Linked DNA regions of Homo sapiens: region 2 is linked to region 1. The links come from fine-mapping of genetic effects on gene expression. A gene starts in region 1. The other region holds a variant in brackets. All regions are shown on one strand. Distances are from middle to middle.

The links. PIP is the estimated chance that this variant, and not a neighbour inherited with it, causes the effect.
Region 2: its variant is the best candidate, but not a certain one, in a credible set for the expression of CEP41 in whole blood (TOPMed, PIP 0.89).

Annotation. Positions count from the first base shown.
Region 1 is chr7:130,439,354-130,442,269 of GRCh38, forward strand. CEP41 (centrosomal protein 41) reads right to left here and starts at 1,663. Exons shown (of 11, transcript NM_018718.3): 1 at 1,581-1,663. The coding sequence starts at 1,613. LOC105375505 (a long non-coding RNA gene) reads left to right here and starts at 2,401. Exons shown (of 3, transcript XR_927973.3): 1 at 2,401-2,916. RefSeq lists an enhancer at 1,349-2,103.
Region 2 is chr7:130,686,287-130,689,202 of GRCh38, forward strand. It overlaps TSGA13 (testis specific 13), which reads right to left and starts at 259. Exons shown (of 8, transcript NM_052933.4): 1 at 1-259. The variant G/A (reference allele first, on the strand shown) is at 1,465.

The sequences.
Region 1 (2,916 bases):
TTTGCAGGGGGGAGGGGAGTAAAAAGTTGTACATGGATTTTCTACTGGGGGTTATGAGTCTGCTGTAATTATTATTAACTATAGTCACCATGCTGTGCCAGAGATCTCAAAAACCATTCCTCCTGTTTAACTGTAACTTTGTGCCCTTGGATCAACATCTTCCCATTTCTGCCCTCCTTCCCCCCACCCTCCAGGCTCTGGTAACCACCATTTTATTCTCTACTTCTATGAGCTGGACTTTTTAAGATGCCACGTATAAGTGAGATCATGCAGCATTTAGACATTACCAATTGACCATGGCTCTCTTGCAGGGCTTAGACTCAGCCTTACAGCTTTCTCAGCCTAGTACCAGGCAGCCACCAAGAGATGAAACAGTTACAACTCCTATTTGGGATAAAGGCTAAGAACCTCAGCAAGGCAGAGAAAGCCTGGACTCCTACAGGGGCCTGTTCTGAGTTCACACACTCCTTACCTTCACTTGGGCTGTTCTACCCGGGATGATGCTTCACCTGGCTAATGAATGGCCTTGCCACCCCTTCCATCTCCACAACCCTTCTCTCACTCCCTCAGTTGAGTACTACCTATTTTCTCGTAACATCTTGCTCCCCGACCACACTGTACTCAAATTCTGTTCACAGGCTCCTTCACTAGACGCAATTTATTTATTGTTTATTTTTATTTTTTTGAGACAGAGTCGCTCTTATCACCCAGGCTGGAGTGCAATGGCACGATCTCGGCTCACTGGAACCTCCATCTCCTGGGTTCAAGCGATTCTCCTGCCTCAGCCTACCGAGTAGCTGGGATTACAGGCGCCTCACCACCACGCCCGGCTAATTTTTGTATTTTTAGTAGAGACGGGGTTTCGCCATGTTGGCCAGGCTGGTCTCAAACTTCTGACTTCGTGATCCGCCCGCCTCGGCCTCCCAAAGTGCTGGGATTACAGGCTGAGCCACCGCGCCTGGTCCACTATACGCAATTTATTAAAGGGCAGAGGCCTTGTCTTCTTTGTACGTCTAGCACCTACTGCACCGTGGAAGTTTCCAATAACGTTTGTTGAAACTGCCACAAATGCAGCAGGGGACTAGCGGTGAAACAGATGAAGAAACTGAAGGGTCCTATGGAGAGAGGGGTAAGCCTAATGTCCTATTTTGCCCGTTTTCCAAAGGTTTGGTCAGCTTACTCCTGCTCTTCCTGTATCCCCACAATCAGAGATGCTGGCTGGCTTTCAACACGTGCCATTAGTGTGCAGCGCTTCCTTTGTCTTTTCTGTTTTGTAACTGTCACTCCGAGACTGTAAGCCATTTGAGGGCAAGGGCTGTGTCTTTGGGTACTTCGCTCCTCGCAGTCACAAGTACTGGCGTGCGTACGCGGGGAGAGATCGCTCCTCAAAACGGGGTCCTGAACGCTGCCCCGCGGCCCCCAAGCCCGGCCCGCCCCGCCCCTGCATCCCGACCCCTCCTCACGCCGGCCCCTTCCCGCCTTCCGGGCGGCGGAAGTCGCTGGCTGCTCTTCCCTGCCCACATGAGCCTTTTCCGGTGCGCCCGCCCCCTCCGGCTCTCCGGCCGAGACCTGGCCCTCACCTCAGGGTTCCCAATGTGCCTCCGGAGGGACATATTTTCTCCAACCGACCACGTTCGGGGTTCTAGCCTCACGGGTTGCCTCTAACCCTAGCTTCCTACCCCCACAACCTTGTTCAGCCGCCTCCCTATACCCTCTTCTCCGATTGGCCCGTCTTCCCCGGCCGGCCAATGGGGGCCCCGTTTACTCTCTCATCTCAGGGTCGCAGAAGGGCAAGACGCCGCTCAATGGTTGCCAAGGGCAACGCGGGACGCCGGCTAGCGAGGCCTTTTGTTCTCTGGGCTGGGGCTCGCCGGCTCCAGCCTTAGGGCGGGAAGAGAGGCGCGGGGGGAGGGGAAGGCTGGCGCCTGCGCAAAGCCGGGGGCGGGGGCAGTGGCTTGAGAGCCGGGACAAAACACGAGTTTTAGCTAATGTGGAACCATAAATACAACACAAGACTCCCCATCCCCCAGCTCCGTTTTATGGCCGTTTCAACCAAACATCTGGGCTACTGATTCCACAACAGGGAATATTATATGGGCCAGGGTTGTTCAGCAGAAATGGGAGAGTATGGTTTATTATTTTCTGGTTAAGTTAATATGCGAATTATGCAAAATACATGGGTAAATACAGTAATTATCGGTGCTTTAAAAGCTTTTAGGCTAGCTATAGAGCGACATCCTTAATTGCAAAGCACACGCGCTATTCTGTGGTTCATCGTTCATTTAACAAATACTTAATAAGCACCTTATGAGAAAAGCTGCAGTAGGTCTTGTGGAGAATGGGAGGATGACTAGGACCCAATCCCGTCGTCATGGAAACCATTGTGACTCCTGCCACCAGCCACCACCTGTTCCCATTCCGGATCTGAAAATGAAGTCCTAGCACCTTTACAAAACAATTACACACACAGTTTGACTTGGCTCCTAAATGTCCCACCAAATCCATCAAAATTATTATTTCCTTTTACATGAAAGGAACAACACAGTAACCCTTTGTCCTTTGCTCTAAGTTGTTTTTCCAGGAATGGAGAAAGGTTACTCTGAGCAGTTCATACTCGCCAGTTGTCTGTTAGTGAATAATAGCACACATTTGAGCTACTTCAGGGTCTGTGAGATGACCCATTCAACAACATGGCCTCACATGCCCTTGTTCTCTTAGGCACTTCAGCAACCCAACCTTAGGGCTACACCTTGGATCATGTTGCCAGTCAGTGCTGCTTGACCAGAATTTTGAATTCTGGCCACAGCTGCTTCTTGGACTTTTCATGTCACTCTTTCATGTTTATTAAGTTTTGTCTTAATTTCCATAATCTTTGCCAGTTCTTTAACCCCTCTAAAATTCTCAGTCTCTCACTCC
Region 2 (2,916 bases), 250 kb after region 1:
CCAATTCATGTATATGGTGAAACTAAAATAAAAATGAGCTGTCAAATTGGGCAGTATAAGTCTTGGGTTGCTAGTCTGCAGGCCAGGCTGAAAAACAAATCACACAAACACTAAAACTACATTCAAAATAAGAATGTAAAAACCTGGTGTACACTACCTTTAAGAACATCACGAAATCATAGTTTGGTGAAGAAGGCAAAGTCTTTGGCATGGGAACTTTCCATTTTGAAAATATCGTAATTATTCTTTTCTGGATTCTGGAGGAGACAGAGGGAATTTGTGATGAATAGGCAATCTAGAATGCTGAGGTGTTCTGTGTTGGAGACAGAGAATGAAAAGGCCAAAACTTAAAGGCATATTTAAACAAAATCTGCCAATCTCTTATTTTGCCAGCCTATGACTTCTCTACACACACACACACACACACACACACACACACACACACACACACACATCTTCACCATCTCTTAATCTACCTCTACCTAAGCCAATGTTTTCACTGCATTCTTCAAATACAGTGAGCATTTTTTCTTATTCCCCATACTTAAAATGCTGTCCCCAATCTCTTCAGCCATTTGAATCTTCTCCTTCTCCTTCTCCTTCTCTTTCTTCTGACGGAGCCTCACACTGTCACAAGGCTGGAGTGCAGTGGCACAGTCTCAGTTCACTGCAACCTCTGTCTCCCTGGTTCAAGTGATTTTCCTGCCTCAGCCTCCAGAGTAGCTGGGACTACAGGCGCCTGCCACCATGCCCAGCTAATTTTTGTATTTTTAGTAGAGACGGGGTTTCACCATGTTGGCCAGGATGGTCTCGATCTCTTGACCTTGTGATCCACCCACCTCAGCCTCCCAAAGTGCTGGGATTACAGGCGTGAGCCACCATGCCCAGCCCTGAATCTTCTTTCTTTATGTTACTACTCAGGTCATTCCTTTAAAGAGAAGATTTTCTAGATTAATGCAATCCCAAACTCTAGACTATAGTCACTGGGTTTTGTGCATGTCATTGTATAGTGTCTTGTAGTTCTGTTTTCACTTTTCTTATGTGCGGGTCTTGTCTGCCTCTTAAGCTGTGAGTCCCTTAAAAGTGGAAATGTAAATTTTAAACATATTTGTGCCCCCCTCCCAGTGCTTTGTATCTTATGCATTCAAAACTAGTGTTTGCTTATTTCAATATATTTGCTGAACATTTATGACATATTAGACACTCTCCTAGGTGATGAGAACAAAGCATAAATCAGATGTAATTCTTGAGCTCCTTTAGGAGCTCACAGTTTAGCCAGGAAGAGAGACAAAGAAACGGTTGATTGCAACAGAGTAGAATGCCAAATTAGATCTAAATTTAGGGTACTATGGAAGCAATGAGGAAGGGGACTTAACCCATACTGAGAAGAGACTGAGAGAGATTTGGAACTACTGCCTAAACTGAGCTGGGGAAGATGAGTGTGAATTAACCAGGTGATGAGAG[G/A]ACAGACATTTGAGAAAGAGGGAGAAGCAGAGGCAAAAACATGAGAATACAACAAAGCCTGGCTTATTTAGGGGAATTGAAAATACTGTAATTGCAATATGCCAGGAACATAAGATTTAGGGGAAGGGTAGTGAGAGGTGAGACTAGAGAGGAAGACAGGATCCAAATCCTAAAATGAACTATTTGATAGGAAGTTTGTGGGTTATTCTGAGTAATGAAGCGCTAACAAGAGATTTTAAATGAGGTATAATCTCCTTATTGAACAATATATATTTTAGAAATACAAAAATAGTGGCATGTGAACTATAGATTGGAAAGACAGAAGAACTATAGATTAGAAAGATGCAAAGAGGTCCTTGAGAAGTCTATGACAGTGCTGAGGAGGGGTTGAGAAATTATAAGGGTCTATAGCCATCACCAATTAGTGCCATTCACTCCTGCATCCTAGCTCTGGATGATTGATTCAAAGGTGGCCAACCAGGTTATACTAAGAATTTGAAAGTTTGCTAATGACCCACAGAGCTGTAAGATGATTGCACCTGAGCCACCTCATGTGGTATCCCAGGCTGGAAGACTCTGAGCTCTGAGCTCTACCTGCTGAGGTCCCCGGAGCTGCCCCAGATCTAGTCCTTCCTAAAGCAAGACTACACAATTTTCTCTTCAGTTCTGTGAGCTTTCCTAATATTCTTTCAAATAAATCCTTTATTTTCTTAGGGTTCATTTCTGCAGTTTATGACCAAAAAAAAAAAAAAAAAAACCTAATATGGGCTCTGAAGCAGGGTGTCCAATCTTTTGGCTTCCCTGGGCCACGTTGGAAGAATTGTATTGGACCACACATAAAATACTCTAACGCTAACAATAGCTGATGAGCTAAAACAAATCACACAAAAAAAACTCATAATGTTTTAAGAAAGTTTTTGAATTTGTGTTGGGCTGCATTCAAAGCCATCCTGGGCCACGTGTGGCCCATGGGCCATGGGTTGGACAAGCTTGCTCTAAAGCAAGGTAGTGGCAGTGAAGAGGGTTAAAAAAGGATATATGAAAGATGTTAGGAGGGTAGAATTAATAGAACTTGGTAACTAGTTGAATACATGAGATAAGGAATATAATCACATTTTTAGCTTTGTTACCTGAGTTAATGGAGGTGCAAGTTACCAAATTAGAGAACAAAGGGAATGGAGCAAGTTTGGGGGATAAATGATGAATTTTGTTTCTGGTCAGTTGAGTATGAGGCAGAGGTGAGGATGTTGTCTAGTAAGTAGTTTAAAATATGGGACTGGAGCTCAGGAGAGACAGGTTTGGTACTATAGATTGAATGTTTATGTCCTCTGCCTCCCTAAATTCATATGTTGATACTGAGTCCCTAATTATGAGGGTATTAGGATGTGGAGCCTTTGTGGGGGCAATTAGTGCACTTATAGAAGTGGCTTCAAAAGCACATCTTTACTCCTT